Linked DNA regions of Homo sapiens. The main gene of each other region encodes a partner of the protein of the gene in region 2 in a complex. Each region holds a gene or a part of one and is shown on either strand. Other genes may lie near its edges.

Region 1 (3,654 bases), on a different chromosome or scaffold from region 2:
AAAACTTAAAACCTGATCAACTAAAAATGAAACTGCCCAGTAGAAATGCTTAGCTCTCACTGTGGTAATTTCGTGAATGTGGAGGAAACTACTAAAACTTTGATATACTAAATAGACAGCTCTGTCCCACATTTATGTTTATTAAAAACTGACATAAACAAACACAACCTGTACAAAAAATATCCCAAATCTCATATGACTTTGAAATCTTGAGAGACATTATCGCCTAGGACCCCCTCTTCCTCTGCCACGGCCACGTCCTCTTCCTCTTCCTCTTCCTCTGCCTCTTCCTGCAACTGAAGGAAAAGAAAAACAAACCAAGTTCAATTCTCTCCTGCACCAATGTTACCTAGACACCACAAACAACATTTACACACACACCTTTCCCTGTTTATAGCTCTTTATTAGTAGCTACAGTAAATAAAGTTTAACTAGCTTCTGTTAAATGTGTTAGACTTCAGATTCCCTCCACCCCCCAACACATTATCATGCAGAACCAATAACTAAAGGCCTAGGGAGATTATTATTTGTTTCATTTCAATTTATTTACTAAGAAATGTGTCAAATTTAAAAATACTTTTTCTTTATATCATGTCTCAAATTCACCATAAAATGATTTGAACCTCACAAAAAAAGGGAAGATATATATCACAGAATAAAACATGATCACCTTGATGCCAGAGTTTTGGTAACTGAATAAAATCCAAGCAAGTTAATTCAAAACCAGGAAAGTTTAAATGTATTACATCAAATCACAATCTTATTAACTCTTCAGAAAATTAAAACTCATTTGACCTACACATAATCTAGTGCTTTAATCCAAATAGTAATATCCCTACTGGGTCATCCTAACTCTAGTTGAGTATCATGGTGATAGGGAATTCATGACCCAAATAAACTTATTTCATCTTCAGACAGCTAAGAATATTAGAAAATCTTGACATAGAAGTCAGTCACATTCTAAATGTTTTTGTTTTTGTTTTTTAAATACAGGGTCTCACTCTGTAGTCCCATCTGGAGTGTAATTACACCTCACTGCAGCCTTGAACTCCTGGGCTCAAGTGATCCTCCCATCTAAGCCTCCTGAGTAGCTGGGACTACAGGTACAAACCATCATGTCTGGCTAATTTTTAAAATTTTTGTAGAGATGAGGTCTCCCTTTGTTGCCCAAGCTGCTCTCAAACTCTTGGGCCAAAGCAATCCTCCAGCCTCAGCCTCCCAAAGTGGTGGGATTACAGGTGTGAGCCACCGCACCTGGCCACATTAGAAATTTGTACACACTGATTCTAGTCTTACCATTCTAAGCAATAAATAGTAAGTTTAAGATGCTAATTAAGGGACATTTCACAAAATAACTGGCCCGTACTCTTACAAAGTATCAAGGTCACAAAAGGAAAACTGAGGAGAACCAGCTGATACGCATTAAAGGAAACTAAGGAAACGTACAAGTAAATGCAACCTGTTGTACTGGATTGGATCTTGGACCAGGAAAAGGACATTAAAGGGACAATCAGAGAAATGTGAGAAAGGTCTCTAGATAATACAGTAGTGACACATCAATGTAAAATTTCTAATTTTTTGTAGTTATATGACATTTTAACATTTAGACAATCTTGGTGAAAAGTGTATGGGAATTCCTTGTACTATTTTTGCAACTTTTTGTGTCTAAAATTATTTCAAAATGAAGTGTTTAAAAAAATAAAGAAAATGGGAAAAACAGAGTTGGAGGGGTGTTGTAAAACAACAACAACAACAACAACAAAAGGGCTGGGCACCTGTAATCCCAGCTACTTGGGAGGTTGAGGCAGGAGAACTGCTTGAACCTGGGAGGCAGAGGTTGTAATGAGTGGAGATCGCGCCATGGCACTCCAGCCTGGGCAACAGAGCATGACTCTGTCTCAAAAAAAAAAAAAAAAAAAAAAACCCAAGAAAAGAAAATGGACCAGGTATGATGGTGGCTCACACCTATAATCCCAGCACTTTGGGAGGCCACAGCAGGAGGATTGTTTGAGACCAAGAGTTCAAGACTATCCTGGACAACATAGGGAGACCCTGTCTTTACAAAAAAATAAAAAATAAAAAATTAGCCAGGTTTGGTGGTGCATATCTGTAAAAAAGAAAGATAAATTAAGAAAACAACTGCTCACTGCAATCTCCGCCTCTCGGGTTCAAGCGATTCTCCTGCCTCAGCCTCCCGAGTAGCTGGGACTGCAGGCGCCCACCACCACGCCCAGCTACTTTTTTGTATTTTTAGTAGAGATGGGGTTTTACTCTGTTGGCCAGGCTGGTGATCCACCTGCCTCGGCCTTCCAAAGTGCTGGGGTTACAGGCGTGAGCCACCGCGCCCAGCTGCTGCTTCTTTTTTTTTTTTTTAAAGAAAGAAAATAAATGTTTATTCAAAAAAAAAAAAAATCCAAACATTTGGGAGGCCAACGCAGAAGACAGCCTGAAGCCAGGGGTTTGAGGCTGCAGTGAGCTATGATCATGCCACTTCACTGCAGCCTGAGCAACACAGTGAGATCTTGTCTCTTACCAAACAAACAACAAACAAAACAATTTTTTTTTTTTTTTTGAGACCAAGTCTCTCTCTGTTGTCCAGGCTGGAGTGCAGTAGTGCGATCTCGGGTCACTACAACCTCTGCCTCCCAGGTTCGAGCAATTCCCTGCCTTAGCCTCCCGAGTAGCTGGGATTATAGGTGACCGCCACCACACCTGGCTAATTTTTGTATTTTCAGTAGAAATGGGGTTTCACCATTGGCCAGGCTGGTGTTGAACTCCTGACCTTGTGATCCAGCTGCCTCAGCCTCTGAAAGTGCTGGGATTACAGGCGTGAGCCACCACACCTGGCCCAAACCAATAATTTTTAAATAACTCCCTAACACTAGACTATGACAAACTTGAAACGAAGACTCATTTTCATTATTTAATTTGTTGTAGTTTCCTTTTTTTTTTTTTTTTTTTTTGGCGACAGGGTTTTACTCTGTCACCCAGGCTGGAGTGCAGTGGCGTAATCTCGGCTCACCGGAGCCTCCATTTTCTGGGTTCAAGAAATTCTCCTGCCTCAGCCACCCGAGTAGCTGGGATTACAGGCATCTGCCACCATGCCTGGTTAATTTTTGTATTTTTAGTAGAGACAAAGTTCATGCCATGTTGCCCGGGCTGGTCTCGAACTTCCGAGTTCAGGCGATCTGCCCGCCTCTGCCTCCCAAAGTACTGGGATTACAGGCATGAGCCACCGCACCTGGCCAATTTCAGTTATTTTAAACCGTACTATTTTAAATGTGTACACACAAAAACTGTAAGTCTAGAACACGTTAAAATGGGCCAAATTGACCACACTTACCTTCAATTTCTTCTGAAATAGTATTTATGATAGAAAAGGAACAAAAATGATAACTACCCAGAGGAACAAAGAAAAGCAGAGAAAACACAGTAGATAAAAGATTTTGGGCCAGGCACCGTGGCTCACGCCTGTAATCCCAGCACTTAGGGAGGCCCAGGCAGGCGGATCATGAGGTCAGGAGATCGAGACCGCTTGGCTAACACGGTGAAACCCCGTCTCTACTAAAAATACAAAAAATTAGCCGGGCGTGGTTGCAGGCGCCTGTGGTCCCAGCTACTGGAGAGGCAGAGGCAGGACAATGGTGTGAACCC
Region 2 (3,654 bases):
TTCATTGTGATTTTAATTTGCGTTTTCCTTTTTTTTTTTTTTTTGAGACAGAGTCTGGCTCTGTCACCCAGGCTGGAGTGCAGTGGCACGATCTCGGCTCACTGCGACCTCCGCCTTCTGAGTTCAAACGATTCTCCTGCCTCAGCTTCCCGTAATTTGCATTTTCCTAATGGCTTATGATATTGGACATCTTTTCTTTGTGTGTCAGTGTGTGTGTGTGTGTGTGTGTGTGTGTGTGTCACCCAGGCTGGAGTGCAATGGCGTGATCTTGGCTCACTGCAATCTCCCCTTCCCAGGTTCAAGTGATTCTCCTGCCTCAGCCTCCTGAGTAGCTGGGATTACAGATGCCCACCACCACGCCCAGCTAATTTTTTGTATTTTTAGTACAGAAAGGGTTTCACTATGTTGGCCAGGCTGGTCTCAAACTTCTGACCTCGTGATCTGCCTGCCTCGGCCTCCCGAAGTGCTGGGATTACAAGCGTGAGCCACTGCACCTGGCCTTGGACGTCTTTTCATGTGCTTATTTGCCATCTATATGTATCTTCTCAGGTGCAATGTCTCATGTCTTTTGCCTGTTTATTTTTTATTTTTTATTTTTTATTTTTTGAGACGGAGTTTCACTCTTGTTGCCCAGGCTGGAGTGTAATGGCGCGATCTCAGCTCATTGCAACCTCAGCCTCCCAGGTTCAAGGGATTCTCCTGCCTCAGCCTCCCAAGTAGCTGAGATTACAGGCTCGTGCCACCATGCCCAGCTAATTTTTGTATTTTTAGTAGAGATGGGGTTTCGTCATTTTGACCAGGCTGGTCCTGAACTCCTGACCTCTGGTGATTCACCTGCCTCAGCCTCCCAAAGTGCTGGGATTACAGCAAAGTGAGCCACCATGCCCAGCTATCTTTTGCCTGTTTTCTAATACTATTATTTGCTTTTTTACTGTTTAGTGTTTAAGAATTCTTTTTATATTGTGGATACTAGCCCTTTGGGGATAAATGGTTTACAAATATTTTTTCCCAGTCTGTAGCTGTCTTCATTTTCTTAACAGGGTTTATCTCAGAGCAAAAGTTTTTAATTTCAATGAAGTCCAGCTTATCTGTTTTTCCTTTTATGGATTGTGCTTTTGATGTCATGGCTAAGAACTTTTTGCCTAGCCCTAGATCTCTGAAATTTTCTCCTAAATTTTTTTTCTTAAAAGTCCATGATCTGCTTTCAGTTTCTTTTCAGGGTTTCAGGGTTTTTGTTTTGTTTTGTTTTGTTTTGTTTTGTTTTTGTTTTTTTTGCCTATGAATGTCCACTTGCATCAACACCATTTGTTGAAAAGACCATCTTTCCTCCAATGAATTACTTTTGCTCTTTTGTCAAAAATCAGTTGGGCATATTTGTGTGGGTCTATTTCTGGAATCTCTGTTCTGTTTCATTTGTCAGTGTCTGTCACTCTGCCAATACCACACAGTCTTGATTACTATAGCTATATAATAAGTCTTGAAATTGTATGGACTGATTTTTCCCATTGTAGTCTTCTTTATAAAAATTGCTTTAGCTATTCAGCTTCTTTTTTCATCCATGTAAGTTTTAGAACAATCTTGCCTCTATTTTTAAAAAGTCTGGGCCGGTCACAGCGACTCATGCCTGTAATCCCAACACTTTGGGAGGCTGAGGTGGGCAGATCACTTGAGCTCAGGAGCTCCAGACCAGCCTGGGCAACATGGTGAAACCCATCTGTACAAAAAATACAAAAATTAGTTGGGCGTGGTGGCATGCCTGTGGTCCCAGCTACTCAGGAGGCTGAGTAGCTCCTGAGTGGGAGGATTACTTGAGCCTAGGAGGTTGAGGCTGCGGTGAACAGTGATCATACCACTGCACTCCAGCCTGGGCGACAGAGTGAGATCTGAAAGAAAAGTCTTGCTAGGATTTTGATAGGATTTGTGTTAAACTGGCGTTTGGGGGCAATAATTGACTTTTTACTATGTTAAATCTTCTAATCCATGAACATTGTGTATCTCCCCTTTTATTTAGATCATCTTTGATATCTTTTATCAGTGGTTGTAGTTTTCAGCTTATAAATCCTATACATATTTCTTTGTGGAATGATTATAAAGGGTATTTTAAATGAGTGTCCAAATGTTCATTGTTACTATATAGAAATATAATTCATTTTTGTGTGTTTATCTTCATCCTATATCCTTGCTGAACTAATGTATTCTAGTTTTTTTTTTTTTTTAAGATTACTTGGGATTTTCTACGTAGACAATCATATCTACAAATAGGGACAGTTTTATTTCTTCCTTTACAATCTGAATGCATTTTATTTCCTTTTGTTGTTTGCATTAGTCCGTTTTCATGCTGTTGATAAAGACATACCCGAGACCCGGCGATTTACAAAAGAAAGAGGTTTAATGGACTTACAGTTCCACATGGCTGGAGAGGCCTCACAATCATGGTGGGAAGCAAGGAGGAGCAAATCACACGGATGGCGTCAGGCAAGGAGAGATAAAAGAGTAATGAGAGCAGACACTCTTGCCTTATTCTCAATTTTGAGGGATGAGAATTCAGTCGTCTTTTTTTTTTTTTTTTCTTTTTTTTTTGAGACGGAGTCTCGTTCTGTTGCCCAGGCTGGAGTGGCGCAATCTCTGCTCACTGCAGCCTCCGCCTCCTGGGTTCAAGGGATTCTCCTGCCTCAGCCTCCCAAGTAACTGGGATTAGAGTCTGGGCCGATCACAGTGGCTCATGCCTGTAATCCCAGCACTTTGGGAGGCCGAGGCGGGTGGATCACCTGAGGTCAGGAGACCAGCCTGGCCAACATGGTGAAACTTCGTCTCTACTAAAAATACAAAAATTAGCTGGGTGTGGTGGTGGGCGCGTGTAATCCCAGCTACTTGGGAGGCTGAGGCAGGAGAATCACTTGAACCTGGGAGGCGGGGATTACAGTGAGCCAAGATCGCACCACTGCACTCCAGCCTGGGTGACAGAGCAAGACTGTTTTAAAAAAAAAAGCAAATTTTAAAAGACAAATAACAGTATAACAACTATTTATATAGCATTTACGTTGTATTAGGTATTATAAATAACCTAGTGATGATTTAAAGTATACAGAAGGATATTCACAGATTTTTATATAAGGAACTTGAGCATCCTAAGATATCTTTTTTTTTTTTTTTTTTTTTTTGATATGGAGTCTCGCTGCGTTGCCCAGGCTGGAGTGCAGTGGTGCGATCTCGGCTTACTGCAAGCTCCGCCTCCCGGGGTTCACGCCATTCTCCTGCCTCAGCCTCCTGAGTAGCTGGGACTACAGGCGCCCGCCACCATGCCTGGCTAATTTTTTTGTATTTTTTTTTTAGTAGAGACAGGGTTTCACTATGTTAGCCAGGATGGTCTCCATCTCCTGACCTCGTAATCCACCTGCCTTGGCCTCCCAAAGTGCTGGGATTACAGGCATGAGTCACTGCACCTGGCCCTGAGATAATCTTTTTTATCCACTGGGGATCCTGGAACCAATCTCCTGAGGATACCAAATGATTACTTTATTCTTTTCTCAACCTCTGAACCACCATTTTGTGTTTTTTTTTGGTTGTTGTTGTTGTTTGTTTGGTGAAGTGTTGCTCTGTTGCCCAGGCTAGAGTGCAGTAGTGTGATCTTGGCTCACTGCAATCTTTGCCTCC
Region 3 (3,654 bases), on a different chromosome or scaffold from region 2:
AAAGAACTAATGGACAATAGTTGTTACAGAATGGAACGTGAGAATATCACATTTCAGGGGCAGGGCACTAATAACACTAACATGGTGAGGCCATACAACTGAAGACTAAGGTGGAAAAAAATGCAAGTTAAGAAACTTAGGGACTAGGATATTGATGACTCAAGACAGCTATCTTTAATTCTCTATCAATCAATTGAAGACACTGAAACCGAAAGTGCACCCTACAAGATGCAATATATTTACAGATAAATACACAACTCTATCCCATTTACCCGTGCAGTTGAATCTCGACTACAGGTTACCAACACATCGATTGTCGGGTGCAAATCCAAACCATACACTGCACTTAAATGTCCATGATAATGCCGTATAACCTAAAGACAAAGCAGGAAAGTTAAAACTTCTAGAATTAGAAAGATAAATAGTAGTTCACAATGTTTTAAATCCTTAACTCCAAACTTACCTTATTGTATTCGAGATCCCAGCATTTCACTTGTTTGTCTTCTCCACAAGAGAACAGATATGGGCTCCTTGTGCTTACTATCACGCCCCGCACAGTACTAATATGCCCAGTCAATGACAGTTTTAATTTGCCACTAGCCAAGTCCCAGATCTGCAATCAAAGAATATTTATTTTTTTCTTTCACTGGTTACTGCAAAACAAAATTTTAGAAACCTGATTATTAAAACTGAGCTTTCAAAGACAAAAGGAAAAAGATAACAAATACGTAAAAATAAAAAATTTTGCAAAATGACTCCCCTCCAAATAAAAGCAAGAAAAAAACTGGCATGCTCAAACTGGAAAAATATTTGCAATTAGATGACAAAAGGTTAACCTTCTTGTTATATAAATGATATCTTTGATAATAACAGTAAGAAAAGTATGGTATTAAATTAACTGAGGCTGGCAACAACTTAAAGAAATCCTAAAAGCAGCAAATACAGATATGAAAAAGTTCACACTCATTAGAAATTTCATACAAAGTTTTTTAAAAAGATTAAGTATCCATTTTTGCTTACCATATTAGATATTTGTAAAGGAATGTACAACCAATGTGCTGAAAAGGATCCTCTCATACACTGCAAGTATCGATTCACCCATTTGGAAAGTAATTTGTACTTTGGGTATCAGCTTCAAAAATATTTGACCCATTTATTCCATTTATGGAACTCTACCATAACAAAATAATTTAAAATACAGAAAAAGTCTTATATACAAAACTTAACAGCATTACTTGTAATGGTGAAAATCAGACTAAAAACTCTACTGTCCAGTAATAGGAAAACAGATTACAGACTATCTAAATGATATAATATTATGCAACCACTTTAAAAGATGGTAAATTTTTCACAGGAATATGCCTTTGATACAACGTTAAGTGAAAAAAGCAAGATACAAAATTACATACTAAGAATGATTTTTTAAAAGATACACACACAGGAAAAGAGCTTAGAAGTGAAGGTATTGATACTTACAGAAATAAATACTAAAACGAAACTTATCCAAATATCTAACAATGGTAGGATTATATACAGGTCTATGTACTTTCCTAATTCTCTATATTTTCCACATTTTCTATGAATGAGCATGCTCTTAATTTTGTAACCAGTTGGAGAGAACAATGTAAGTATAAAGGAATTAGTGGTAGGTATTCAGTAGGTAAAGAAAAAGTGGTTTAAATAGCACTTTTCAAACAGATATTTATTTAGAACACTTATTAGTATAAATGATAAATTTTACTCCTTATTCAGGTCTAAAATAACAGAGGAACTGCAATAGCAATTCCTGCCACAGGAAATAATAACTGATTAAACTTACATGACAAACACAAAGTCATGTTTATTTTTTCTTCCTTCATTATTACCTTTATAGTTCTGTCAGCAGATCCAGTAACAAACCACTGATTTCCAGGTTCCACAGCAATACATCGAACCCAGCCAAGATGCCCACTGATAACCTGTATAAAACAAAGTAGAATGGGCAGGCCAACGTAGAAGTTAAAATGTATTTAAGTTTAACTGCAGCCCGAGTTTGAATTGCCCTCCCATCTTCAAATCATAAAAGATAATGACTATTACATTTTACAATAATATGAAATTATCTTCAGTGAGTTAATAGTTAACACAAATTGTGGCTCATCTATATAATGTAAACTACTCAGTAATAAAAAGGAATACATTATTAATACTTGCAACAACTTCAATGACTCACAAAGTATTAAGCTGTGTGAAGGAAGCCAGTCTCAAAAAGTACATATTGTATGATTCCATTTATATGACATAGTCAAAAAGACACAGCTAAACCAACCTAAGTGTCCATCATGAGGTGAATGGATAAATAAAATGTGGTACATACACACAATGGAATACTATTCAGCCATAAAAAAGAATGAAATTCTGTTATTTGCAACAACATGGATGGAACTGGAAGATACTATGTTAAGTGAAATAAGCCAGGCACAGAAAAACAAATATTGCGTGCTCTCTCTCATATACGGGAGCTAAAAAATAAATGATCTTCAGAGTTGAATGATGGCTACCAGAGGTTGGGAAGAATAGTGGGGAGGCAGAAGATAAAGAAGAGGTGGATCACGGGTACAAAAATAGATAAAGGGAGTAAGATTTAGTGTTTGGTAGCACTAGTTTGGTTAGCTAGTTTGGTAGCACTAGTTTGGCTAGTTAGCTTGGTAGCACAATAGAGTGACTACAGTTAAGAGTAATTTATTGTATATTTCAAAATAACTAGAAGAGTAAAATTGGAATGTTCCTAATACAAAGAAATAATATCCCAATTACCGTGATTTGATCATTACACACTGTATGTTTTTCTTTGTTTTTTGTTTTGAGATAGGGTGTCACTCTGTCGCCCAGGCTGGAGTGCAGTGGCGTGATCTTGGCTCACTGCAACCTCCGCCTCCTGAGCCCAAGTGATCCTCCCACTTCAGCCTCTGGAGTAGCTGGGACTACAGGTGTGCTCCACTACACATAGCCAATTTTTGTATTTTTTTGTAGAGGCGGGGTTTTGTTGTGTTGCCCAGGCTGGTACTGAACTCCTAGGCTCAAGAGATGCGCTTGCCTAGGCCTCCCAAAGCACTGGGATTATAGGCATGAGCCACCATGCCTGGCCTACACACTGTATGCTTGTATCAAATTTGATATGTAGCCCATAAATATGCACATCTATTATGTTAGCCATAAAAATTAAAAATAAATTAGAACTGAAATTATTGAAAAAAAATAAGACAACTATAGTGATAGAAAACAGATCAGTGATTGTCAGAGGTGAAGGAAAGTGTAACTACAAACGAATAGCACAAGGGTGTTTTTTGAGGTGGTGTAACATCTATATCCTAATTGTGGTAGTGGTTACCCAAATCAATACATCTATTACAATTCATTAGAGCTGTATGTCAAACAAAAAGGCTCTTACTGTACAATCATTTGAAAAATGAAATTTTTAAGATACATATTAAATTATGTGTAGCTGTACATTTCCTACTATGTACATTTTCTTTTTTAAAATTTTCTGTTTTTAATTTTTGTGGGTACACAGTAGAAATGTATTTATGGAGTACATGAGATATTTTGGTATAGGCAAGCAATGCAAAATAAACAGTATGGAACACTTCACGAATCTGTGTTATCCTTGTGGAA

The links.
Region 1: SNIP1 (region 2) and SNRPD1 share a complex: the UniProt entries of both Homo sapiens proteins name them as parts of the minor spliceosome.
Region 3: SNIP1 (region 2) and PLRG1 share a complex: the UniProt entries of both Homo sapiens proteins name them as parts of the minor spliceosome.

What each region holds. Positions count from the first base shown.
Region 1 is NC_000018.10:21,625,704-21,629,357, reverse strand, and holds part of SNRPD1 (small nuclear ribonucleoprotein Sm D1), read right to left. Parts: intron 297-3,654; coding exon 220-296; 3' UTR 1-219. UniProt on the Homo sapiens protein: Plays a role in pre-mRNA splicing as a core component of the spliceosomal U1, U2, U4 and U5 small nuclear ribonucleoproteins (snRNPs), the building blocks of the spliceosome.
Region 2 is NC_000001.11:37,547,660-37,551,313, reverse strand, and holds part of SNIP1 (smad nuclear-interacting protein 1), read left to right. Parts: intron 1-3,654. UniProt on the Homo sapiens protein: Required for pre-mRNA splicing as component of the spliceosome. As a component of the minor spliceosome, involved in the splicing of U12-type introns in pre-mRNAs. Down-regulates NF-kappa-B signaling by competing with RELA for CREBBP/EP300 binding.
Region 3 is NC_000004.12:154,540,322-154,543,975, forward strand, and holds part of PLRG1 (pleiotropic regulator 1), read right to left. Parts: intron 1,959-3,654; coding exon 1,866-1,958; intron 614-1,865; coding exon 464-613; intron 375-463; coding exon 273-374; intron 1-272. UniProt on the Homo sapiens protein: Involved in pre-mRNA splicing as component of the spliceosome. Component of the PRP19-CDC5L complex that forms an integral part of the spliceosome and is required for activating pre-mRNA splicing.